Regions from separate parts of the Homo sapiens genome. Here region 2 is linked to region 1. Evidence: fine-mapped expression QTL. A gene starts in region 1. The other region holds a variant in brackets. All regions are shown on one strand. Distances are between the middles of the regions.

The links.
Region 2: its variant is fine-mapped to the expression of PRRC2B in skeletal muscle (FUSION, PIP 0.95).

The regions. Positions count from the first base shown.
Region 1 is chr9:131,386,988-131,403,163 of GRCh38, reverse strand. PRRC2B (proline rich coiled-coil 2B) reads right to left here and starts at 9,078. Exons shown (of 32, transcript NM_013318.4): 1 at 8,901-9,078. RefSeq lists enhancers at 906-1,897, 4,596-4,675, 6,293-7,054, 7,817-8,578, 9,705-9,854 and silencers at 8,385-8,674, 8,905-9,014, 9,045-9,234.
Region 2 is chr9:131,484,715-131,495,076 of GRCh38, reverse strand. It overlaps PRRC2B (proline rich coiled-coil 2B), which reads right to left. Exons shown (of 32, transcript NM_013318.4): 24 at 10,287-10,362; 25 at 9,937-10,129; 26 at 8,895-8,992; 27 at 7,783-7,910; 28 at 6,981-7,221; 29 at 3,497-3,652; 30 at 2,817-2,908; 31 at 591-672. It overlaps SNORD62B (small nucleolar RNA, C/D box 62B), which reads right to left and starts at 4,591; the gene lies at 4,506-4,591. SNORD62A (small nucleolar RNA, C/D box 62A) reads right to left here and starts at 9,412; the gene lies at 9,327-9,412. RefSeq lists an enhancer at 5,380-5,880. The variant A/G (reference allele first, on the strand shown) is at 4,355.

The DNA.
Region 1 (16,176 bases):
AGACAGGCCTGTGCTTTCTGCCCTGGCCTGGAACACAGCTGTTCTTTAAGCTCTGAACCATATGTAAACAACACCTGCCGAAAAAAGTTCTGCAAGACACAAAGGACCCATGGAAAGAGTCCTGGAGATGACCTCCTTTTTCCAGTAGGTCCTGCAGCGATCCATCCCATGGTTCTATACAAAGAGATGATCCTGAAGCGTGTCGGGAAGTTGACGCCGGCTTCCCGGAGGCACAGTCATTCTCTGCCCTCCTCCCTGCTGGCCACTGGCCATACAAGAATGCTTGCATAATGTTCACCATTCAAAGGGCCTCGGCACTCTCTGGAAAGCAGGCTGACCCACAAGTTCTCTTCTGGGACCCATACATTTCTGATTTCCACATAGGAACACATTTTTAATGTTCCAGGGCTCAGCACACTATTTTCAATAGGTGCTTATTTCGAGTCAGCTACATTTTCCAGAATGCCTTCCCTGACTGCCCCACACCCAGACTGAGGTGAGCTTGGTTTCTGCGTGGGCTCCTATAAGACCCCCTTCTCAGACACCTGGCACACAGTGATGAATGGGAAACAACAGAATTCTGCTTCCGGATGCATTTACTCACTCCACTGGGGGAAAGGACCATTCAATACATGAAAACAAAACTATCTACAGGCTGCTGCCCGTCGCTGAATGAATAAATAAAATGTGGTAGATACATGCAAATAAGAGAATATTATTCTGCCTTAAGAATGAAGTTAGTTCTGACACATGCTGCAACATGGATGAACCTTGGAAATACTATGCTAAAAATAAGCCAGACACAAAATGACAAATACTGGATGATCTCACTTACATGAGGTACTTAAGAGTATTCGGTTTCACAGAAAGAAAGTAAAATGGTTGGCAGGGCAAGGTGGCTCAACATTGCCACCATGGGATTACACATGGCTGTAATTCCAGCACTCTGGGAAGCCGAGGCAGGCAAATCGCTTGAGCTCAGGAGTTCGAGACCAGCCTGGCCAACATGGCGAAACTCCGTTTCTCCTAAAAATACAAAAATTAGCCAGACCTGTAATCCCAGCTATTCAGGAGGCTGAGGCAGGAGAATCGCTTGAACCCGGGAGGTAGAGGTGCAGTGAGCCGAGATCGTGCCATTGCACTCCAGCCTGGGAGACATAACGAGACTCTGTCTCAAAAATAATAACAATAATACAAAAATTAGACCAAGCACAGTGGCTCACGCCTGTAATCCCAGCACTTTGGGAAGTCGAGGTGGGCAGATCACCTGAAGTCAGGGGTTCGAGACCAGCCTGGCCAACATGGTGAAACCCCGTCTCCACTAAAAATACAAAAATTAGCTGGGCATGGTGGCAGGCGCTTGTAATCCCAGCTACTCGGGAGGCTGAGGCAGGAGAATCTCTTAAACCCAGGAAGCAGAGGCTGCAGTGAGCCGAGATCGCGCCATTGCACTCCAGCCTGGGCAACATCAAAACTCTGTCTCAATAAAATAAAATAAAATATACAAAAACTAGGCCAGGCACGGTGGCTCATGCCGGTAATCCCAGCACTTTGGGAGGCTGAGGTAAGCAAACCACTTAAGGCCAGGAGTTCGACACCAGACTAGCCAACATGGTGAAACCCCGTCTCTACAAAAAAATACAAAAATTAGCTGGGTGTGGTGGCGTGTGCCTGTAATCCCAGCTACACAAGAGGCTGAGGTTGCAGTGAGCCAAGATCGTGCCACTGCACTCCAGCCTGGGCGACAGTGAGACCCTATCTCAAAAAAAAAAAAAAAAGGAGAAAGAATGGTAAGAATGGTGGCCGCCGCCACTGGATGGGGGAGGGGAGTTGGCATCTAATGGGAACAGAGTTTCAGTTTGGGAAGATGAGAACGTTCTGGAGATGGATGGTGGTGATGGTTGCACAACACTGTGAAAGTGCTTCACGCCACTCAACTGTACACTTAAAAATGGTAAATTTTATGTTATGTATACTTCACCACAATTTTTAAAATTCAAATAAAGAAAAAAACACCTATTTACAAGTTGTGAAAACTGCTATAAAGAGAAACTGTAGGGGGCTCCGAAGAAATCACAGGAGGCTGAGGCAGGAGAATCGCTTGAACCCGAGAGGTAGAGGTTGCAGTGAGCCAAGATCGCGCCATTGCTCTCCAGCCTAGGCAACAAGAGCAAAACTCCGTCTCAAAAAAAAAAAAAAAGAAAGAAAGAAACCACAAGAGGATGAGGCCAAAGTTAGGTGGGGGGCTCTCCAGGGCCTCCTCCCCACCAGACCAGGATCTCCCCAGGAGTCAATGGGGCATCCATGTCCCTAGAAACAAAAACTGTTTAAGACAAAAGGCTTCTCCAGGTTCAAACCAGTAAATGGAGTAAGACCTCAAGCCCCACTCATCAAAGGGCTTAACCAGGACTGAGACCCCCCAGAACCTAGTGGCTCATGAAAGAGGCTGCCTTGCTGGGTGCCGTGGCTCATGCCTGTAATCCCAGCACTTTGATAGGCGGAGGCGGAGGGATCACTTGAGTCCAGGAGTCTGAAACAGCCTGGGTGTCCAGGCACGGTGGCTCACACCTGTCATCCCAGCACTTTGGGAGGCCAAGGCAGGTGGATCACCTGAGGTCAGGATTTCGAGACCAGCCTGGCCAACATGGCAAAACCCCGTCTCTACTAAAAATACAAAAAGTAGCCAGGTGTGGTGGTGCACGCCTGTAATCCCAGCTACTCGAAGGCTGAGGCACGAGAATTGCTTGAACCCAGGAAGTGGAGGTTGCAGTGAGCCAAGATCGCACGGCTGCACTCCAGCCTGCGCAACAGAACAAGATGCCATCTCAAAAAAAAAAAGAAAGAAAAGAAAAGAAAAACAAACAGCCTGGGCAAAATGGCGAAACCCCGTCTCCACAAAAAAATACAAAACTTAGTCAGGCATGGTGGCGCATGCCTATAGGATCCCAGCTACTTGGGAGGCTAAGGCAGAAGGATCATTTGAGCCCAGGATGCAGAGGTTACGGTGAGCTGAGATCACATCACTGCACTCCAGACTGGGCGACAAAGTGAGACCCTGCCTCAAAAAAGAAAAAACTAAGAAAGAGACTGCCTTGGGCTCAAGGCTGGAGAGGGAGGTGACAAAGACTGAAGGAGACAACCGATCCTGTCCAGAAGAGAAGAACAAACCTGCAATCCTCTGACCCCAGAAATTCCACTTATGGGAGATAATCAGCCACGTGGACCAAGACTTAACATGCCGAGATGCTCCCTACAGTTTCTCTTATAGGAGGGAAAAGAGGGCAACAATAATCTAAATGTCTACGAATACAGGAGTCAATAAATTATGGCATATCCGTATAATAGCAATTATATAATTATAAAAATAACGTAGAGGAATACACTATAACATTAAAAGGGGAAAAGCAAGCTATCAACTGTGTATTCAATGTATATATACTATTGCTCTAATTTAGAAAACACAGACATTATCAGAGGAAAGAAACACACCAGCAACTTTACTGCAGTTAGCTCTGGATGGTGAGGTCACAAGTGATTTATATATTTATTTTGGCATTTATTCTTTTCAGTATTTTCCTTTTTTTTCAGATGGAGTCTCGCTCTGTGGCCCAGGCTAGAGTGCAGTGTCGTGATCTCGGCTCACTGCAAACTCCGCCTCCCGGGTTCATGCCATTCTCCTGCCTCAGCCTCCTGAGTATCTGGGACTACAGGCGCCCGCCACCACGCCCGGCTAATTTTTTGTATTTTTAGTAGACACGGGGTTTCATCGTGTTAGCCAGGATGGTCTCGATCTCCTGACCTCGTGATCCGCCCACCTCAGCCTCCCAAAATGCTGGGATTATAGGTGTGAGCCACCGTGCCCAGACTTTTTTTTTTTTTTTTTTTTTGAGACAGAATTTCACTCTGTCTCCCAGGCTGGAATGCAGTGGCACAATCTCGGCTCACTGCAACCTCCACCTCCCAGGTTTAAGTGATTCTCCAGCCTCACCCCTCCTGAGTAGCTGGGACTACAGGCACTCGCCACGGCATCCAGCTAATTTTTGTATTTTTAGCAGAGACGGGGTTTCACCATGTTGGCCAGGCTGGTCTTGAATTCCTGACCTCAGGTGATCCGCCCACCTCGGCCTGCCAAAGTGCTTGGATTACAGGCGTGAGCCACCGTGCCCGACCTACTTTTTATTCTTTTGAGACAGGGTCTCACTCTGTCGCCCAGGCTAGAGTGCAGTGGCATGATCACGGCTCACTGCAACCTCAACCTCCCAAGCTCAAGTGATCCTCCTGCTTCAGCCTCCCAAGTAGTTAGAACTACAGGCATGCGCCACTATACCCTACTAATTTTTTCTTTTAAGAGGCATTTTTTTATTTTCATCACATTGCCCAGGCTGGTCTTAACCTGGCCTCAAGCAATCCACCTGCCTTGGCCTCCCCAAGTACTGGGATTACAGGCATGAGCCACCTTGCCCTACCACAAGAAAAATGTATTTAAAGGGCCTTGTACAATGCCTGGCAAATGATAGGTGCTCAAGGAGTATCTATTGCCTGACAAGTCAATTAAAAATGCAATAAATACTGCTGCTGCAGCCCCACAGAGAAAAAGACTGATGGTTATCTTGGAAAGGAGGAAGACGGTCCAGACGGAAGCCACACAACTGGCTGCAGAGGTAAGAACGGAAGGAAGTCCTGTACAAGATGTGAAAGACCGCCAGCAACTTGAGATAGGCTTTGTTCTGCCAGCTACTCCTGCTGCACGCAATGCTTCACAAATCAGTGCTGCTGCCAGCACCTCGGAGGTGCACTTCAGCTCGGACGAAGGATGCTTCTCAGGTCACACAGAAAACCAACAAGTACAGCTGAGAACAAAGCTCAACCACAACTTCTGGCTCAAGACACTAAGACAAACCTACCTCCCAGCACAAAAGAGATTTCCCACGTGCCACCCAGAGGTATAAACAGTAATATCGCCAATGGCAAGGCCCAGGTCTGCCAGCTCCCAGGTGAGGAGGTCCAGTCTGAATGGCACCTTTTAAACCTAAAGCTAATGACAAACAATTCTATTTCACCAGAAACAAAGCTCACCATATCCCATGTCGCTCCCATCTCCAACACCACAGCCAGTGCCTGTATTTCTTTGTCCCAATGACAGACCCAAGTTTCCTGAGGCTGTACAAGTCCCAGAAATAATCTTAAAAAGAGATCAAGTTATGATCTGAAAAGAAGACAGTCTAGTTAGCCCTGCCTCCTTACATGAAATTTATTTAAAACCAAAATTACAAGATTTGGAGCACAAAGCCCATTGTCTGCTGGAAATGTTGTTTTTTGGGGAGAAATCCATTGTTTTAAAATCTAGTATAGATAGGCTCTATTTAGTACCTGTCCGCCCATGACAAGATATGTACATTTCACGGTAGGGAAGCCTCATTATTGAATTCAGAAATACATGAATTGACCCACCTGGCCTATTCTGGTTTGAAATAGAAACCAACACAGAAATGATCAATCTTAAGGGGTAGGATAATGAGACATATAACTAGCATACAGCCACAGCCATTAGCAACATGAGTCAGTACTTTGTGCAAGGCAAAAAAAAAAAAAAAAAAAAACCCTCAAAAGTACAATAAAATAATCCTTCAGGATAAAAAAAGAGAACTGAAATTCAAAAGAGGTTAGGAGTGTTGAACAGGAAAAAAAAAATTAATAACAAAAATCCCTCAGCTAAGCACAAGGCAAAGGGACCCATGCTGGAACCAGTTCTGACCTGCCATTCCTGAAATTCCACTCTCCCGAGGTTTCCTGGCTCTTCCTTCCCCAGGCTTTCTTTTTACCTATTTGGGCCCAGTGGAGGCTGGAGACGGCCACTGTACGAGATGGGACGCCCACACAGTGGGCTTAGGGCCTAAGGCAAGGGCATGCAATCAGCATTAGGGGGCCACAGATAACCAAAATTCACAGGTATGCAGAAGCTCATGGGAGAGGCAGCGACTATCTCCTGGCCTAACTAACCAGTTAACAGTATAGAGCCAGACTGGGCCCGAGTGAAGTCAGACAAAAAGGAAGGGCCAAGAGGCAGGAAGCGAGGAAAAATCAAAGGATGACAGGACCCTGCTAAAATATCTCAGTTCCACAGCTAGGAGGTCTGGAGGGGGTGCCACATTTTACCAAAAAACCAACAAGATGGTTGCGGGAATGCCAAAATGAACCAAAACAAATTCCCCAATAAAATGCAGAACCACTGCAGAGCCATTTACCAACAAGCTAACATGTTCAGCCAAGAGGTGACCTGGGTCTCAGTCCTCACTTGTGGCCAACACTGGGTTCAGTCTGTCTCCTGCTTCTTAGCAATAGTCCTTCCACACAATCTCAAACAGCAGACACCGAGATCTGGCTGAGCTCCCTAGCTGTACTAAGCCATTCTGGTGCTTCCAGGTAGATGGGTGATAGTCACCATAGCAAAACATTAGCCGGCCATAGAATTTGGGGTGGGGAAGTCACAGTTCCATCAACCAAGAGAAGAGGAAAAAATAAGCATTAAGAGAAAGAAGACCGGGCGCGGTAGCTCAGGCCTGTAATCCCAGCACTTTGGGAGGCCAAGGCAGGCAAATCACCTGAAGTCGGATGTCTGAGACTAGCCTGGCCAACATGGTGAAACCCTGTCTCTACTAAAAACACAAAAATTGGCCAGGTGTGGTGGCACATGCCTGTAATCCCAGCTACTCCAGAGGCTGAGGCACGAGAATCGCTTGAACCCAGGAGGCGGAGGTTGCAGTGAGCTGAGATCACATCACTGCACTCCAGCCTGGGCGACAGAGTGAGACTGTCTCAAAAAAAAAAAAAAAAAAAAGAAAAGAAAAGAAAAAAGAAGGAAGGGAAGGAAGGAAAAGGAAGGGAAAGGGAGGGAGGGAGAGAGGAAGAGGGCAAGGGAGGAAGGAAGGAGAAAGGAACCAGAAAAACAGATAATCAACAAACACATACATTTCATCACCTTCCTATGGAGAGAAAACAATTCACTGTGAATCTTAAGTGAGGCTCCCAAGAGCCCTAATAGATACCCAAGGCAGGCATAATTATTCCCATTTTACAGATGCAAGATCTGAGCCTCAGAGACTTGCTTTGTAAAGGTAACCCGATGAGGACCAGAATCCAGCTGCGCAGGCTCCAAGAGACACACTTGCCCAAACAAGTAGAAACTCACTCTCAGATGATTATCTGCCAATCCCCAAGGAAAGCAGTTATCCTCAGAAGGCAGGACTCCTTGGGCGTCTGTTTGTCCTGAGCATCTCGTACTGTTCTAACCCTGCCTTAAACTGACCAACTGCCACACACTCCGGGTCTACTAAGTTCTAGAGACCTCCAAATGCTACTTTTTCCCATCCCTGCCTCCCGAGAGGCTCAGCACTGTATAAGCGCCCACTAATGTTTGGGCCTTGAATTCCTTCTGTATTGTCCATGCCTTAGGCCAGCACCTGTGGCATCCATGGGCACAGTTTGGCTCTATGGGTGGCACCACAAGGGGCTCACGTCTGTCCTAGGACTTGACAGCAGTTATACCAACAACCGTAGGAGGAACCACTAACTGTGCCAGGCCCTCTGCTAGGCCCTTCACCGCTGCCCAAACCTGCCAGGTGGAGGGTGCACGCCCCGATTTATGCAGATGAAGCCTCAGACAGCCCCAGAGTCACTAGGTTTACGGAAGAAAGAAGCAGGATCTGCACCCCAATGCCTGGGCCTCCCCAGTCCCACCTTACACCACAGCGCTGTGCATAGACATGACTAAATGGCTGCAGCGAGATTCGGAAAAACCATGCTAAGACCGCACACAATTGGTTACAAAAACCAAACTGGATGACACTGTACAAAGCCACATCAAATGCACACTAAACCTTAAAGAAAAAAAAAATCTTAGGGAAAGTTTAACAGTCCTGTAAACCAAAGGCATTTAAAGATTTCTCCCAGGAAGCCATTTAGCAAAAGACACTCCCCAGCCCCCCTTCTCCCACTTCCTTCAAGCTCACCACTGAAAACACCTCCAATTCTTGCCTAAAGGTGGGCTCCGACCTCCCACGATATTTAGAAGGAGGAAAAAAGAAAAAGGAAAAAAATCCACCTCTTAAGGCAAATCCACTCTTCAGAGGCCCACAGTTTCAACAGGGCTGAATTTCTCTCCTGGGGGTTGAGGGGAGGCAAAAGAGGAGGAAAAAAAAAAAAACCCCATCTGGCAGGCCCCGAGTGGCGACATCCTGTTTATTATTAAACATTTTTAGCATGGAGCATTCAGCATTTCGAAAATAACCCTCTGGTTCCCGCACTCACACCGAGACTGGGCGGCCGCTCGCCTCCCTCCCCCAGCCGCCAACTTTAGCGCCGCCGGGGCCCGGCCCACCCCGCGCCAGGAACGGCCCCGCGAACGCCGCTCAGCGCCCCGGACCCAAGGCCCGACCCCGCAGGATCCCGCCTCGGGCGCGCTGCTCCGTCAATTGGGCGGGGCGGGGAGCAAAGACGCCGGCCCCAGAACCCCGAGACCCGGCTGCGGGCCCGGGACCCCCGCCCCTCCGGCCTCTGCAGCCCGGCCCGGCCTCGGGGGTACGGGGGTGGCGGGCGAGCCCTGAGGGAGTCGCGCGGCCCCTGGACCCCGCCCGAGCCTGAGGCCGCGCGGCGCCGCCACAACAATGGCGAGCGCGCCCGGGCCCGCCGCCCCCAGGCCCCGCGGCCTCCCAGCCCCGCAGCCCCGCGCCCGGCGGGAAGGAGGCGGCGGCGGCCGCGCTCGCGGACAAAGGTCGGGCAGGGCCGCAGGGCCCCCGGGCCCCCGGCGGCGGCCGCGGGAGACAAAGCCCGGCCGGGCCGCGCCGCCTCCATCTTAGCGCCGCCGCCCCCACGCCCCGGCCCCGGCCCCGGCCCCGACCCACCTGGTCTGGTTCCGCGGGCGCGGCCGGGCCGGGCGATGGCAGTCGGGCGGCGGTCGGGCACGGGGGCGGCGGGATGGCGGCGGATTGCGAGGCGGCGGCGCGGGCTGCTCGCTCGCTCGCTCCCTCCCTCCTCCCGGGCTCGCTCGTCGCTGCGCGGTGGAGCCTCGGCGCCTGTCTCGCCGCTCGCTCCCTCGCGCTCGGCTCCCCGCCCCCCGCCTGCCGCCGCCCCCGCCTCCTCGTCCTCCTCCTCCCGCCGCCGCCCGCAACCTGGGCCCGCGCAGCGCCCCCTGCCGCGCCTCCCGGGAGCGGCGGCCTTGGGATCGGCCCGGGGGCCGGGCGAGGGCTGGGGCCAGGGGGGAGGGGCGGGGAGCGGCGGGAGGGGGCTGGGAGGGGGCTGGGAGTGGGGAGGGGCCCGGGGACGGCGGGAGAGGCGGGAGAGAACGGGGCAGAGCGGGGATCGGGGAGGAGACCCGGAGGAGGGGCCAGGAGCCAAGAGAAGGGGCCTGGGAAGGGCATGGGCCCGGCCTGGGCCCGGGGGAAGGGCGCCCGGAAAGAGGGGGAAGGGATGGAGGGGGCAGTGACGGGGGAGCGAGCCCGGATCTCCGCCCCCTCCCCCTTCAAAACTGCAGCGCCTCAGAACAGACTAAGCCCGGATTTTGTTAAAATATGTATACGGTATATGAACGGAAAGGAAGCAGAAATAATACTTTTTTCATTTCAAAAGCAAGGTTGTTGCACAATATGGGTACTTTGTCCCATTTTTACAAAATGAAAACTAATAAGCCCCTCCTCTTGAGTGTTGTGTGTTTGTGTGATTGCAAAACAAAAGGTCCGGGAGACTGCACTCCTGTCTTGGTTACCTCCGTGGTTTGAGGTTGGGAGAGCGGAGGAGGGTTCTTACTTTTTTAGACACCTAACCAACTATAAAAGCAATTTCAAAAAGCAAATACAAAAAAAAAATGTTAGGGCCTGGCACCCAAATCATCCCACCCTCTTCCAGTCACGGTTGCTCTAAGCACCAGCTGCGGGCCATGCCCTATGCTAAAGCACGTGGTTTGTCTCACTTAATCCTAACCCAGGGGCAGATATTATTGTTCTAATTCACAGGTGAGACAAAGGAGGCTTTGAGAGAATGTGCCCCAGGCCACACTGCTGGACCCAGAAGGAAAATTAACCCACTTCAGCCTAACTCCAGAACTGAGGCTGGTGAACAAAGCTTAGTTTTTGGGGAGTAGAATTCTGGATACTTTTATAGCCTTATTTATAATTCTCTGAATTTTCCTACATTTTATCCATGGTCATTTTCAGTGTTATCCTTTTTTTCTTTTTTCTTTTTTTTTTTTTTTGAGACAGTCTCGCTCTGTCCCCCAGGCTGGAGTGCAGTGGCACAATCCGCAATCTCTGCTCACTGCAACCTCCAACTCCTAGATTCAAGCGATTCTCCTGCCCCAGCCTCCTGAGTAGCTGGGATTACAGACATCTGCCACCATGCCCAGCTAATTTTTGTATTTTTGGTAGAGATGGGATTTCACCATGTTGGCCAAGTTGGTCTGGAACTCCTGCGCTAAAGTGATCCACCTACCTTGGCCTCCCAAAGTGTTGGGATTACAGTGCCGGCCACTCTGTTTTACATCATCAAATCTGCATTATTCCCCTGCCAATGTCTTCAATATTTCGCTATCTCTACAAAACAGGGAGGATGTAACCCTAATTTTTGTTTTCGATTTTGTTCCTTGACCATCTTCAGGAAGGCCATAGAATTGGCCCAGTGCTCAAAACCCAGCAACTAATAAAAATGATAGAAGGCAAATAAACAAATAAAAAATAAATTAAATAAATAAACTGAGCCTCAGGTTCTTCATCTGTAAGGCTGGCGCAGTGGCTAACACCTGTAATCCCACCACTTTGGTAGGTCGAGGCAGGTGGATCATGCGGTCAGGAGTTCAAGACCAGCCTGACCAATATGGTGAAACCCCATCTCTACTAAAAATACAAAAATTAGCCAGGCATGGTGGCAGTCGCCTGTAATCCCAGCTACTTGGGAGGCTGAGGCAGAAGAATTGCTCAAACCCGGGTGGCGGAGGTTGCACTGAGCCGAGATCATGCCACTGCACTCCAGCCTGGGTGACAGAGTGAGACTCCATCTCAAAAAAAAAAAAAGAAAGAAAATAAACAAGCAAAAAAGAAATAAACTATCTGAAGCCTCAGATTCTTTATTTGTAAGGCCAAGCGTGGTGGCTCACCCCTGTAATCCCACCACTTTGGGAGGCCGAGGCAGGCAGATCACCTGAGGTCAGGAGTTTGAGACCAGTCTGGCCAACATGGTGAAACCCCGTCTCTACTAAAAATACAAAAATTAGCCGGGCATGGTGGTGGGGTCCTGTAATCCCAGCTACTCGGGAGGCTGAGGCACAAGAATCACTTGAACCCAGGAGGTGGAGGTTGCAGTGAGCCAAGAGCACGCCACTTCACTCCAGCCTGGGCAACAGAGAGAGACTCTGTCTCAAAACAAAATGATAGGAGGAGGCTGAACAGTAACAGGGTGGTTTACTGAGCACTTACTATGTGACAGCCACTGTGCTAAACACTCCCTATAGAGTCACTCAGGTAATCCTCACGACATACCCATAAAACAGACACTAGTGTGCCCATCCAACAGAGAAGAAAAGTAGACTTTGTGGAGGCAATACAATGCCCCCCACCAAAGATGTCCAAGTCCTGATCCCTGAAATCTGTGAAAATGGTACCTTCTCTGGCAAAAGGGATTCTGTAGATGGGATGAAGTTAAGGATCTTGAGATGCAGAGATGAATCCTGGATTATTTGGTTGGGCAGGTGGAATCACAAGGGTCCTCACAAGAGGAAGGAAGGAGGGTCGGAGTCGGAGAAGATGTGGTTGATGAAGCGGAGTTCATCATATTGACTGACAAAGGAATGACGCAGGACCTCACGCCCAGAAATGCAGGCTGCCTCTAGAAGCTACAAAGGACAAGGAATGGATTCTCCCCTAAAGCCTCCAGAAGAAAATGAGCCCTGCCAACCACCGTGACCTCCAGAACTTTAAGATAACAAAGTTACATAAGCCACTAAATGTGTGGTAATGTAGCAATAGAAAACTAGTACAACCTTGGAGACTTGCTGAAGGCAACACAGCGAGGGAAGGGTTAAAAGGCAAGCTAGGGCCAGACACAGTGGCTCAAGCCTGTAATCCCAGGACTTTGGGAGGCTGAGGTGGGCAGATCACTTGGTCAGGCGTTCGAGACCAGCCTGACCAACATGGTGAAACCCTGTCTCTACTAAAAATACAAAAATTAGCCAGGCCTGGTGGTATGTGCCTGTAATCCCAGCTACTCAAGAAGCTGAGGCAGGAGAACTGCTTGAACCTGGGAGGTGGAGGTTGCAGTGAGCCGAGATTGCACCATTGCACTATAGCCTGGGCGACAGAGCGAGACTCTGTATCAAAAAAAAAAAAAAAAAAAAAAAGCTAGGGCACAGTGGCTCACGCCTGTAATCCCAGCACTTTGGGAGGCCGAGGCAGGTGGGTCACGAGGTCAAGAGATCGAGACCATCCTGGCTAACATGGTGAAACCCCATCTCTACTAAAAATACAAAAAATTAGCCAGGCGTGGTGGCGGGCGCCTATAGTCCCAGCTACTCGGGAGGCTGAGGCAGGACAATGGCATGAACCTGGGAGGCAGAGCTTGCACTGAGCTGAGATCACACCACTGCACTCCAGCCTGGGCGACAGAGCAAGACTCTGTCTCAAAAAAAAAAAAAAAAAAAAAAAAGGCAAGCTAGGAGTCTTGGGAGAGAAGAGACCTGGCTTCAAATCCAGCTCAGCCATCTCCTACCTCCCTGACCATCCTCATGGAGAGAATGGCATGCAGTCATCCATCCCTGCAAAGTGCTTAGCCCAGAGGAGAGCCCTGGGAATCAAAGTTCGTCCGTTCATTCACTGGGCACCTGCACTCTGGTGCTCACTGTGCCAGGCTCTGGGGCCATGCTGTTGAACTGGGCAGAGAAGGGCCACTACAGTCAATAAAACAAACACAGGCCAGACGCAGTGGCTCACGCCTGTAATCCCAGCACTTTGGGAAGCCAAGGCGGGAGGACCACGAGGTCAGGAGATCAAGACCATCCTGGCCAACACGGTGAAACCCTGTCTCTACCAAAAATACAAAAACTAGCCAGGCGTGGTGGCGGGCACCTGTAATCGCTCGGGAGGCTGAGGCAGGAGAATCGCTTGAACCCAAGAGTTGGAGGTTGCAGTGAGCCAAGATCGCCACTGCACTCCAGCTTGGCGACAAAACAGGACTCCATCTCAAAAAAAAAAAAAACAAAAAAAAAAACAACCATGTTCCGAGGTTTTAGTTCTGGTTCTGTCTCCAACCAGCAGAGCTAGCCTTTTGGTGCCTAAGAGTTTCTACCTGCGAAAATTGGGTGGGGAGCACTGTGGTGTCTCTCCAGCTGGGATCCCCAAGCAGAGAAGAGAGCTTGGCACAAAGTAAGCACTCAATCTCCATGGTGGTTGAAAAGTGGATGCCTGGACAACTGAGGCCAAAATCATGGCTCCTGACCAACCACACAAAACACACGGCTCACAAAACCAGCCAAATAAGCACATGCACTAAAGCCTCCAAACCTCAGCAAGCCTGGAGGTGGGTGCCCAGCCTCCCTTCCCCTACTGTCACCACTATGGGGACAAAGCATCCAGCAAGGTGTCAGAGGAAGAAAACATACCTGGTGTTTTGAATACCTGCACTTAACAGTCGAGAAAATAGAGCATCAGAAAGTTCAGTGACTTGCCCAGCCAGGCACAGTGGCTCATGCATGTGATCCTAGCACTTTGGGAGGCCAAGGTGGGCGGATTGCCTGAGGTTGGGAGTGTGAGACCAGCCTGACCAACATGGAGAAACCCCATCTCTACTAAAAATACAAAAACTGAGCCAGGCATGGTGGCGCATGCCTGTAATCCCAGTTACTTGGGAGGCTGAGGCAGGAGAATCGCTTGATTCACCAGGGAAGCGGAGGTTGTGGTAAGCCGTGATCCCAGCACTGCATTCCCGCTTGGGCAACAAGAGCGAAACTCTGTCTCAAAAAAAAAAAAAAAAAAAATTGAAAGGAGCCAGGCGCAGTGGCTCACACCTGTAATCCCAGCACTTTGGGAGGCCAAGGTGGGTGGATTGCCTGAGCTCAGGAGTTCGAGACCAGCCTGGGCAACATGGTGAAACCCCCATCTCTACTAAAATACAAAAAATTTGCCAGGAGTGGCGGCATGCACTTGTAGTCCCAGCTACTTGGAAGGACGAGGCAGGAGAATTGGTTGAATCCGGGAGGGGGAGGTTGCAGTGAGCCAAGATCATGCCACTGCACTCCAGCCTGGGCAACGGAGCGAGACTCCGTCTCAAAAAAAAAAAAAAAAAAGGTAAAAGGAGGGGCCAGGTGCGGTAATCCCAGCACTTTGGAAGTCCAAGGAGGGCGGATCACGAGGTCAAGAGATCGAGACCATCCTGGCCAACATGGTGAAACCCTGTCTCTATTAAAAATACAAAAATTAGCTGAGCATAGTGGCGTGTGCCTGTAGTCCTAGCTATTCAGGAGGATGAGGCAGGTGAATCACTTGAACCCAGGAGGCGGAGGTTGCAGTGAGCCAAGATCGCGCCACTGCACTCCAGCCTGGTGACAGAGCAAGACTCTGTCTCAAAAGAAAAGAAAAGAAAAAAAGTGCTGGGCGTGGTGGCACACGTCTGTAATCCCAGCACTTTGGGAGTCCGAGGTGCGCGGATCACCTGAGGTTGGGAGTTCAAGACCAGCCTGACCAACATGGTGAAACCCCATCTCTACGAAATACAAAAAATTAGATGGGTGTGGTGGTGTATGCCTGTAATCCCAGCTACTCGGGAGGCTGAGGCAGGAGAATTGCTTGAACCTGGGAGGTGGAGGTAGCAGTAAGCCAAGATTGCACCACTGCACTCCAGCCTGGGCAACAAGAGGGAATCTCCATCTAAAAAAAAAAAAAAAAAAAGTAAAAGTAAAAGTTGATGAAATTAATTTTAATAATGATTTTTTTTTTTTTTTAGACAGCGTCTCGCTCTGTTGCCCAGGCTGGAGTGCAGTGGAGCAATCTCGGCTCACTGCAACCTCGGCCCCCCGCCCACAATGCGTTCAAATGATTCTCATGCCTCAGCCTCCTACATAGCGTGTGCCATCGCACCCAGCTAACTTTTTGTATTTTAGGTAGAGATGGGGTTTTGCCATGTTGGCCAAGCTGGTCTTGAACTCCTGGCCTCAAGTGATCCACCCACCTGGGCCTCCCAAAGTGCTGGGATTACAGGCATGGGCCACTGCACCTGGCCTAATAATGAATTTTATTTAGCCTACTATATCAAAAATATTACTGTTGCAACAGGTAATTAATATTTTAAAATTATAAATGAGATCACTGACATTCTTTGTGGTCACATGAAGTCTTCAAGTCCGGCATGTATTTTATACTTTATAGCACATGCCACTCAGTGCTGGGCAGGTTTCACACTCTCGGTGGTGGCACAGGGGCAGTGAGCTCTTTACCTTCTCCACTGTTCCTCACAGCCTTTGCCAAAGTTTGGGAAGTGGAGGAGATGACAGTACCGTGAGAGGCAGGATGACCGCATCTGTCTTATTTGATGCAAATCCCTCAGGGATTAAGTCTGGCACAAGGGAGATATCGGTCTAAGGCTCAGGAGGACAAGGACTTAGTCCATTTGGTTCTCTGCTGTGATGGTTAATACTGAGTGTCAACTTGATTGTATTGAAAGATATAAAGTATTAATCCTGGGTGTGTCTGTGAGGGTGTTGCCAAAAGAGATTAACATTTGAGTCAGTGGCCGGGGAAGGCAGACCCACCCTTAATCTGGTGGGCACAATCCAATCAGCTGCCACGGAACATAAAACAGGCAGAAAACTAAGAGAGAGAGAGACAGGTGGCCGGGCGCGGTGGCTCACGCCTGTAATCCCAGCACTTTGGGAGGCGGAGACGGGCGGATCACCTGAGATCGGGAGTTCGAGACCAGCCTGACCAACATGGAGAAATCCCGTCTCTACTAAAAATACAAAATTAACCAGGCGTGGTGGTGCATGCCTGTAATCCCAGCTACTTGGGAGGATGAGGCAGAAGAATCGCTTGAACCCGGAAGGCTGAGGTGGCGGTGAGCCGAGATCGTGCCATTGCACTCCAGCCTGGGCAACAAGAGCGAGACTGTCTCAAAAAAGAAAGAAAGAAAGAAAGAAAGAGACAG
Region 2 (10,362 bases), 95 kb before region 1:
GGAACCAATGAGAGCAATCACTTCCCATCTCTACCAGCCAGGCACAGTGACTGATTAAAAACCCACGTCTGAGGGGCTTAAGCTCTGAGCCCCAGCACGTTTTAGAGAATAGAGAAGAGAATAGTGCGTGCAGGAAAAGACACTGCGATGTCCTTTTCATTATAAAATGGGAAAACTTAATTTCACCTGTGCTCCCACCCAGCCAAGACAAAGATGAGACACACCACTGACTAGAACCAGCGCGCGCACCCCGGCTCCTAAAGCCGACCCCCAAACCTAACCGAGTCTCCCAGGGCGCCTCAGCCCCGACCTGCCAGGGCTGGTCCACCTTCCAGCACCACCTCCTCAGAGGAATCAGCATCCTCCCTTCTCTGCAGGACAAGGAAGGATCCAGACGCCCGTCAAGAGGAGAAATGCCTTCGCCAGGAGGGACGCGGGCGGCCCAGCTCCCGGTTCTGTGCTCTAACCGCTAGGGCATGGCTGTCTTTAGACAGGGGGCGCTCAGATAGGTTGGACAGTCCCTTCTCTTTTGGCGCTTGGAGACGGGCCTAAGTGTCCAGGGCTGAAGGGTCTGGAAAGCCATCTTCTACCTGTTGCACGTAGTGTCCCTGCACAGAGCCCATGTTAACTGCTGATCCAGAGGGCTTCCCACTGGGGCTAGCAGAGCTAGGCCTGAAAAAACCAAAGGCAGGGGTTGAGAATACACAACGTGTCACCACAGAAATGGAGTCAAAGCCTAGCACATGGAGGAGGCACAAGGAAGGAAGGGCCTGCGGCCAGAGGCGCTCACTCGGGACGGTCCGTGGATCTCTTGGATGGAAAACAACCACAGACCTAAGACAGCCCAGAACGCAGAAGGGTGAGGGGGTGGCTGTCACTGACCACCCTGGCACCTCCAGGACAGAGCTCAAGGAGACGCACCGCAAGAGAGGGAGGCTGAGGCCCTGTACAGATGGGCATGGCTGTCCTGCTGTGCAGAAAGCGACACTGGCCGTCTCAGGGTCTGGACCAACACGATGCAGTGCCCCAGACAAAAGGCCTAGAAGCCTGACGCTGAGCCAGAACTGTGCCGAGTATTGTTCTAGTCTTCACTTTTCAGAAAAGGGGATGGGGGAACCAAAATGTACAACATGCTTCTAAATGTGTTCCACTGACCACTAGTTAGTTCCCAGGGATGTTAATTAGGTGCTACGTGGAAAAAAAAAAAGTCTGCGGTCAAAAAGCCTAAGTGCCGTGTGCAGAGTTCAACAGGACTCTCAACCTAGGCCCGCTCAGCCTGTGTGGTGAGTACCCTCCCCAGCAGGCCACCCTGGGGACAGCACTCCCCCAAGGACCTGACCAGGGAACCCTTGTTTTTGCAGCGCACATCTCAGCAGCTCTATTTCCAGAACACTTTGGCAAACACTGCTTTATACAATTATAGCAATTTCCCCAACCCCCCTAAAACACCATAGAAACAAAGCTACTAGTTTAAGGCTTCCACTTTCTAAATATGCTCCAAAGAATAATCTGCTGCCATTCATTCCTACAACTACATAGACACAGGCGACTCTTGTCCCGTGAGGCTCTGTCTCTGGGTTTTGCTTTTTGAGGAAGGCTCTGTAGCCAGAGGCTGCTGGAATCTGCCTGTGGCAGCAGCGGGACAGCGTCTGCTGAGACCTGCAGCCGCCTTCCTCCTTCCAGTTCCGCTCCATGGTCGGTGCTGTCCAGCTATCTTTTTCACACAGTCCTGATGTTTTGGTCTATGTGACAGACATGGTAGGAAAACGAAACGTACTAAAAACAGAAATAAATGAAGCCAGGAGAGTGAAAATAAGAACAGAAAAGATGGAATGGGAGGAAAATCTACAAAAACCCCTTTCTCTGGAAATGAAGGTACAAGAGTGGAATGCTGTGATGGAGGACAGGCAAAGGGCGGTGGGGCAGAGGGAGGGCAGCAAGGCAGAGGGGGTGCAGCTGGAGCAACTTGCAGACCATGGGGGCCCGGCTTGCAGAGCGCTCCTCAGGCCCACAAGTACCTGTGTAGTCGTGGGGATACCTCATGGCGTCTGCAGCGATGGTGTTAACCTCACAGGGCACCATGGGTCAGGCAGGTCTGTTTCACTCATTTGTAAACACAGAGGGGTCTCAGGAATCTCCCACATGTAACAAGGGTGGACTGTACAAGCCCTCGGAGCCCAGGGCCAGAGCGTGCTGCCTTCACACACCAGCACGGGCAGAAAAGGCAGTGGACCAGAGGCTCTCGCCAACATCCGACAGAGCCACCTGAGTATCCAGCTAAGGGGACCTGAGACAGTTGCTGGAGGTGGAGACAGACACAAAGGAAGCAAAAAGAGGGTGCTGGTTTGTAGCATGGAAGGAATGGCCCCATAAGCCCAGCAATAAAAAGTCCCCTGGCAGGGGTCATAGGGCAAGTCTGAGGAAAGAGACGCTGGGAAAGGCCACGCTCCTCCCCTTGCCAGGATGCAGCCCTGTGGCCAGTGGGTCCTGTTTTTAGGATCTAATGGGAAGTCACGTCAGTCCTGATGCCTACTAAATGTCAGCCGTTCCTTTTCCTACCTTTCCAGAAAGCTCCCCAATCCAGAGCATCTTATTATAATGATTAAAACCAAAACCACTCTCCTGACTCCTCACTCCCCCAAATTTAACTGGAACACAAGTGCATCCCAGTGCTGAAACACCACAGTGACACATGGCCCATAGAGGGACCAGGTCTCTGGCGGCTCTCCCTGGGCCCAGATTCTTCTGAGTCACTGGGCCGCAGCTCTGGCAACTGCTCAGCTACACAGCACGCAGTCCCCAGGGAGTGGCTTTACCTGTAGGTCTGTGGCGATGGCACGGGGCCTCCTGAAGGGACATTCTGTTTACTGTCGGCAAAGTGGAAGCCTTTCATCTCCATCTGAGAGGGCTAGAGAGACCAAGCAGGAACAAGCTGTCATTTGAGGCCCTGGAGACAGCTGGACCACACACTTACTGAACAACCCAGGGCAGAGGTGGTGAGGGCCATGGGAATTCCCAGGGAGGCATCTTATAGAGCAGTGGTTTTTGGCACCAGGGCCCAGTTTCATGGAAGACAATTTTCCCACAGACCAGTACAGCTCTGCAGCCCGGGGACTGGGGACCCCTGTTCTAGAGAAATCTGCAAGCCCTTTCCCTCTAAGCCAGACTCAAGAGGGCTTCTTCTTAGAAGCAAGAACCATCACAATATTTTGTTCTTTTTAAAGTGAAGTGGGAGAGCCAATGAAACATGGCCGTCCATAGCAGGGCCTCCTGGGGAGCTGGGGAGGAATGCTGATTCCTGGCCCTCAGCCCTCGACATGTTCAGAGTCCCCAGGACCTGCCTCTGTGATGGCCCCACACATGGTCACCTTCCTTTCTGCCCTGGCAGTCCCACGCCACTGGCTCTTTCTACCACACAGGGGTACTTAGCTTGCTAGAAAAAGTTGGTGACACAAGGCCCCCTCCCTAGGGTCAGAGGCAGATGGGGTCCCCTTACCTCTCTGCTGGTGTTCAGGACTGGCGGCTGGGACCCGGGCGGAGGAATCCTTCGGGGGGCCCCAACGGAGAGGCTCTGCCCAGGTGGCAGCTGAATAGACTGGGGCAGGATCAGTGGCTGCTGCCCGGAGCCGTACCGAGGCAGTGGCATGGTCAGCTGCTGGGCGACAATGACAGTCAGGAGGGGGAATGATGCTATGGAGAAACCCCAAACGCACCAAAGAGCGACCGCACATGCACTTCAGATTCATACACTTCAGAAGAACTAAAGCAAAGCCTGCATAAAGCAGGACATGCTCTAATTTCTACTGCAGCACAGGAGAGATCGCCCAGGATTTCACACCTTCGATGGCAGAGGCACGTCTTCTTGCTGGAATAGAGTAGGTGGTGAGAAAACGGGCAAGACTAAGCTGGCTGCAGGCATGGGAACTAACAGCGTTAAGTGTGTCTCATCCACATCTCTGCTAAGGGCTGCGTCTATCTTCAGCCCTTTCTGCCTTTGTCCAGCAAGTGCTTACTGAAAGCATACAAGGTGCCAAGGAAGCGGCAGGGCCCTGTCCAACATGGGCCTGCACACTGCCAGGATAGTGTGTCACACACTGGACACAGCTGCAGGACACTCGGGATGCAGAGCGGCATAGGATCTGTGGGTGCACACCAGATTTATGGGTGCACACGGGGCGGGGTGGGCAAGGAGAGGACGAGTGAGGAAAGTCAGAAGTAATGGCGAAGCCAAGTCCCAAAAGATGAAAGCTGCATCGGACGTATATCTCTGCATTCCTTTGTACAGCACACACGTTCAAGACTCTTACTGTTTTGCATCAAGTGGTGGTAAAAACAAGACTGGGCTGGATTCCAG[A/G]CTGTGGGGGTCCTTTGAAGCATGCTGACAGGAGAACAGGGTAGCTGCAGGGCCTAACTAACTAGAACAAGATATGCGAGGTGGGGATGTGGGCCCAGAGACTGTAAGGACAGGGGAACAGGATGGGGTAGGGGGGCTGGGCCACTTTTGGTCTCTCAGTCACTGTCCTCTTCATCTCCCTGCTATTGAGTCCACAGTGGAGGGTCAGAAGGATCTATTGGAATTACATCACTGAGACTTGTGGTGGCCAGAGCCGCAAAACACCATGCTCCTCCTTGGAGCACCAAAATGGTGCAGGATGAAAATGATGGGAAGATGCTGCCATTTATAGAGTGCTGACTTGGGGTATGATCTGACTTGCAGGGAGGCCAGGTAGGAGTCCCTACAGGAGCTGGACAGCATGCAGGGGTGTGGAGGGGATGAGACACAGCTGGATTCTGAATCCTTTTAAAGCCAGAGCTGACAGGCCTGCTGAAGGGTAAGGGGGTGAGGTGAGGGGGAGCAGGGAGCCAAGGAGGATGTGGACTGGACAAGCAGAAGGACCGGGAGGAAAATCGAGTTTTGAATATGATGAGTCTTGAGATGCCATAAGACACCATAGCAGACATGCTGGAAAGTCCATTGGATTTGAGATTCAATTCCAGGGACAGATCTGAGCTAAAGATGTCCATTTGGGAGTGAGGAGAAGATGAAGGAATTTAGAGCCATGACTCTTGAAACACACCCAAAGCAGGGCCCACGGGCATGCTGACCATTACAGACTGGGAAGGAGAGGGGACAGCAAAGGAGACTGAGGAGGAGGCCTGAGGCAGCAGGAAAGCCAGGAGCGACGGCCTGGAAACTGGGTGAAGAAAGTGGTTCGAGGGGTGTGGGGGGCGGGATTACGGGGTCAGCACTGCAGCTCGTCTGTGTACTGACGGGAAGGGATATCTGATGCATGAAAGAGAGGGAGATGTGCTGGGGCAGGGCCCCCCAGGGGCACAGGCAGCACCTAGGCAGGGATGTGGCCACAGGGGCTTGGAGACTGTCACTGCTCCTGTTTCCTGGGTGACACAGAAAGGGAGGTCATGGGTGGGAGGCAGCGAGGGGCAAGATGCAAGTCTGAAAAGCTGCTAGGAGGGTGGGGGTTGACTGGGAGCCACAGCTTGGATGAAATGCAAAGGCCATGTGGCTCGGCAGATCTGCTGATGGGGAGGAAGAAGCCAGGCCAAGGGGGAGGATGACAAAAACATGGGTGGCAGAGACTGGGTGTGGTGGCTAACACCTGTAATCCCAGCACTTTGGGAGGCCAAGGTGGGTGGCTCACTGAGGTCAGCAGTTCGAGATCAGCCTGACATGGTGAAACCCCCATCTCTACTAAAAATACAAAAATTAGCCGGTGGGTGGTGGGCGCCTGTAATCCCAGCTACTCGGGAGGCTGAGGCACGATAATTGCTTGAACCCAGGAGACAGAGAGGTTGCAGTGAGCCGAGATTGCGCCACTGCACTCCAGCCTGGGCAACAGAGCGAAACTCCATCTCAAAAAAAAAAAAAAAAAAGAATTTTGGAGTTGGGTCACTAGAGGGAGTGAATTGAAAAAGCCAGAGGTGACAACTGAGAGGGACACTGAGAGTTGAGATTATGCGAGAGCCACAGCTACTGGGAGCAGCCAAGCCTAGACAGGAGTGCACAGAGCAGGGGCCCATGTGAACAAGGGCACCAGTGGCGAGGAGGGCACAAACTGCATGGACAGGGTCCATGGCACAGAGACCCGGGGTCATCTCTGCAGACATCAAAACCACTAGGAACTGGAACAGGAGAGTGGAGACAGACTGCAAGCCAGACCAGACAAGGAGGGTGACCTTCAAAGGTGCCAAATACTGCCCACAGGTTGACGGAGAGGAAGATTTCTCAGCAGACACTGGATGTGGTGATGGCACCATAGCAGAGTGAAGGGCTTGTCAGGCACAGTCTATGGTGTGGGCTTCAAAGCTGGCGTTTCAGGGAGGAAGGAAGAAGAGGAGTCTAGAAGCATCAACAACTACACAAAGAGGACTCTTAACCCATTCCACACCCTACTGCACAAGGGCAGGGAGAAAGGAAGGAGCCCCCGTCTGGGGGCTGCAGGAGCAGGCAGTGCTTAGGGGACAGCCAGGTCTCAAGAATAAAGAGATGGATGAGGGGCCAGGGGTGGTGGCTCACGCCTGTCATCCCAGCCCTTTGGGAGGCCAAGGCGGGCAGATCACTTTGAGGTCAGGGGTTCGAGACCAGCCTGGCCAACATGGTGAAACCCCATCTCTACTAATACAAAAATTAGCCAGGCACAGTGGCACACACTTGTAGTCCCAGCTACTCAGGAGGCTGAGGCAGGAGCATCGCCTGAATGTGGGAGACAGAGGTTGTAGTGAGCCGAGATCATGCCACTGCACTCCAGCCTAGGCAACAGAGCGAGACTCTGTCCAAAAAAAAAAAAAGGTGATGGGGCTACTCAGAAGAGGCTGATTTCCTGCACGCTGAGGAATGGGCACGGTGGCTACCAACCAACAGCACGATAGGCCAGCACACACTGAGAGGCGGGTGAAAAGAAAAGGCAAGGTCGTGAAGGAAAGAAGCCTAGGGCTTTGGGTAGAGTGACTGAATTCCTGACCTGTGGGAGCTGGGAGTCCAACATCTGGGAGGCACCCAGGCCAGCAGCCTGGCTGAGCTGGCCCTCGTAGACCAGGGCTTGGTTCCCGCTCATGGGCTGGTAGGGTGAGCCAGACTGCGGCTTCACCATCTCCAAGGGCTGCATGCCTGGGAACGCCGAGTATGGAGGCTTCAAGGCTGTGCCCCCAGAGAGGATCATGGTGCTGGGCGGTGACAGGCTGGGGTGCATGTACACCTGAGATCTGCAAAAGCCAGACAGATGGTCGGGATCAGGTGGATGAGTCCAGCTGCGGATCTGGTCCCACCCTTCAGAGATCCCCGGAGAGCTTGCTAAACCACAGATCCCCGGCCCCACCCCCAGAGCGCGACTCAGAGGGTCCAGGATGGGGCCTGAGAACAAGCTCCTAGATGGCGCTGATGCTGCTGGATTAAACAAGTGAAGACATCCAGGCTGTACGAGGCACAGGACATCAGCCACAATGACTGGCAGCCACACTGACGGAGAAGCCCGCGGTGGGGAGGAGACAGGGAGTCAAGGGGAGAGGAGGAGGAAGGAGCAAGGAAAGGAGGCAAGATGACATGGAAAAGCAAAACACGGCCCACCACATATCAGCTCGCCCCAGGCCTCTCCTAGAGCACAGTTAACAACGGACTGAAGAGTGATTCAGAGCAAACTCCCACCCCTCCCCGCCCCACTGGCCCCAAAGCAGACAAGCACCAAACAGCTGCAGGACGAAGGCTGCACACAGGGCCAAGGCCCTGGCTGTGAGCTGCCAGCTCCGCAAGCTGGTACATGAGCTCACCTGAAGGGCTGCAAGGAGCTGAAGATCTCCTGGGACTGGGACACAGGAAGCCCACCCCTCAGTCCAAGCTGAGCTTGTGCCTGCAGAGATGTGTGAAGGGAGATCGGGATCTGCTGGGCAGCGGCGGCCTGTGAACGGGAAAACGGGGTCGGGGAGGTAACCGCAAGGCCCATCCAGGTGGTTCTTCCCCTCCCACCTCCCCTGCCCCTCTCCACATGGCTGCTGGAACACTGCCCAAAATTCAAATGCCAGCATGTCATTCCTGGGCTTCCCTTGCTATTGGGATAAAGCCTATAATGAAAAACTGGTAGCAACCCCAAACCACAGCATATCCCTACCCTGGAATTCTACACAGCAACAAAAATGGATCCTAGCACATACGTCAACAGAGGTGAGTTCCAAAAACATAACGCTGAATTTAACAATGCACAAAAAGAAAGATACATGCAGTCTGACCCAGTTATGCAAGAACCAAAATCTTGGTAACCAAACAATACAGCAGTTAAGAACATGTTTTTAAAAAGAGGTCAGCAGAGGCCACATCCTCCATCAGCAAGCCTGCACTTGGAGCAGATTCTGCCTGGAAGTCCACTGTCGTGGCTGTGGAGGCACATGGGTCTGAGGGGCGGCTAGACCATCCCAAAGGCCCAGCACCAGCATTAGAGGGGAGACTTCCAAAAATCACCCCTTGGCAGCACAGAAAGTATGCCAGTCCTGCATAAATAACCAACGCCTGCTCATTTCTAAGACTACCTCTTTCTAATGCATCCATGCCTGGGAGTTTAGGCCTTTCTTCTCTTCATCAGAAGGATACCTGATCACCAAAGAAAATTCCATTTTAGCTAATTCCCCGGCTAGGACACAGGAGGGAGAACTTTGAGAAAGGAAAACTAAGCAGAGTCTGGAGCAGCCAACTCCACTCCTCTTCCCTGTCTCGATTATTCGCTTAACAAATGCCTCCTGGCTGCCGTGGCGGGCCAGGTGCTGGTCACCACATGTGAGGGGGATGGAAAACCAGACAGACAATGAGAAATAGATGAGCAAGCCAATTCCGCCCTGCACTGGCTCCTCCCCACCACCCCCAGCCAGGCCACCTGGCTAGCTGCTGTCACCTGTTGGTAACTCTGCTGCTGAGGTATCGTTTGAGGAACCAGCCGGGGCTGACTTGCAAACACATGGCCATCCAGGTACAGGGGCGGGAGGTGGCTGCCTGGAAACAGAGCGGCAAAAGGGACGTAGAAGAGGATCAAGCCTCACTACTTCTCAATGTCCCTGAGGGAAACAGTCTACAGGTCTGCTCTACCCAGGGGACTCAGTGGGGACGAGGGCGTGTGTACAGAGGCTGCTAGGTTCCCTGTGTGCCGGAAGCACACGCCTGCTCACAACACGCCTGGCACGCACCTCAGGGAACGTAGGGAGGGTGCAGCGTCAGACCTAGGAGGAGGGAGGAGGCAGGTGGGCTCTGGCCTACCCTTCCCACCTCCCACTCACCAACTACCCCAGACACTCGAAGGGGCATTCTACTTTAACCAGGGCTGCCTTGGTCTCTCAGTCACTGTCCTCTTCATCTCCCTGCTATTGAGTCCACAGTGGAGGGTCAGAAGGATCTATTGGAATTACATCACTGAGACTGGCAGCTGGGCCCTCAAAACCCCCACGCTTCCCCTTGGGGACACTGGCACACGATAAGGATGGCAGCAATCAGGACAAAAGTAGCTGCCAGTGACTGAGGGCTCTGTTGATACAAAGCCCTTTCCAGGTAAGACCTGGCCTCACGGGTGTGGCCACCCCACGGAGTTTCATGTAAGAGAGGAGAGGACACTGTGGCTCGGCAAGAGCTGCTCACCAGCCGAGGCGACACGGCTCCAGCACATGACCCAGGTCTGACTCAAAGTCAAGCCTTTGCTCGCTCCTGTCACCAGTAGGCAGGAGTGCCTCGCTGTTATCCCCCAGTTCTGTTTCCCAGCGTGGGGAAGCAGGACGTGCACATTACCTGCAGCACATGGGAGCTACGACCACTGGGCCTAAAAACAAGTTGCTACTTCTACATGCTACTTAAGACAAGGCCAGGAGGTGACATTCGGGGCTGTTAATCCGTTTTTCTTGATAATAAATGGAGAAGGACCCCAAGGCCTTGCTCAGGGGATGAGATACCTGGCATAGAAGCAGAAGGTGCTACAGAGGCCACAGGCATGGGTGGCATGGACACTCCACCGAAGGAGCTGTAGTTGACCCCGCTGGAGGCACCCACAGAGGATGGAGGCTGGATGCCTGAGCCAGCGCCGCCTGGAGAGCTCTGCTCCGGCAAACTGGGGGAGTTTTCCCAAGCCTTGCGCGCAGACTCCATCTTCAGAAGCAAGGGGAGGGGGAGGGATGAAAATTACTATCACGCTGGCAGTGGACAGAGCCAATCTAAGCTTTAGGGGTTCGGGGACTCCTCCCTTCTGCCTCTTTGTAAGCTAAGGTACTGGGTGGGCCCTCACCCAGCTCAGGGCTGGTGTTACCTTCAGAGTAAGGTCGGCGGTGGGGAAGGACATTGGGGAGAGACCGATGGCCCTCTGGATGTGATGGTCCCGCCGC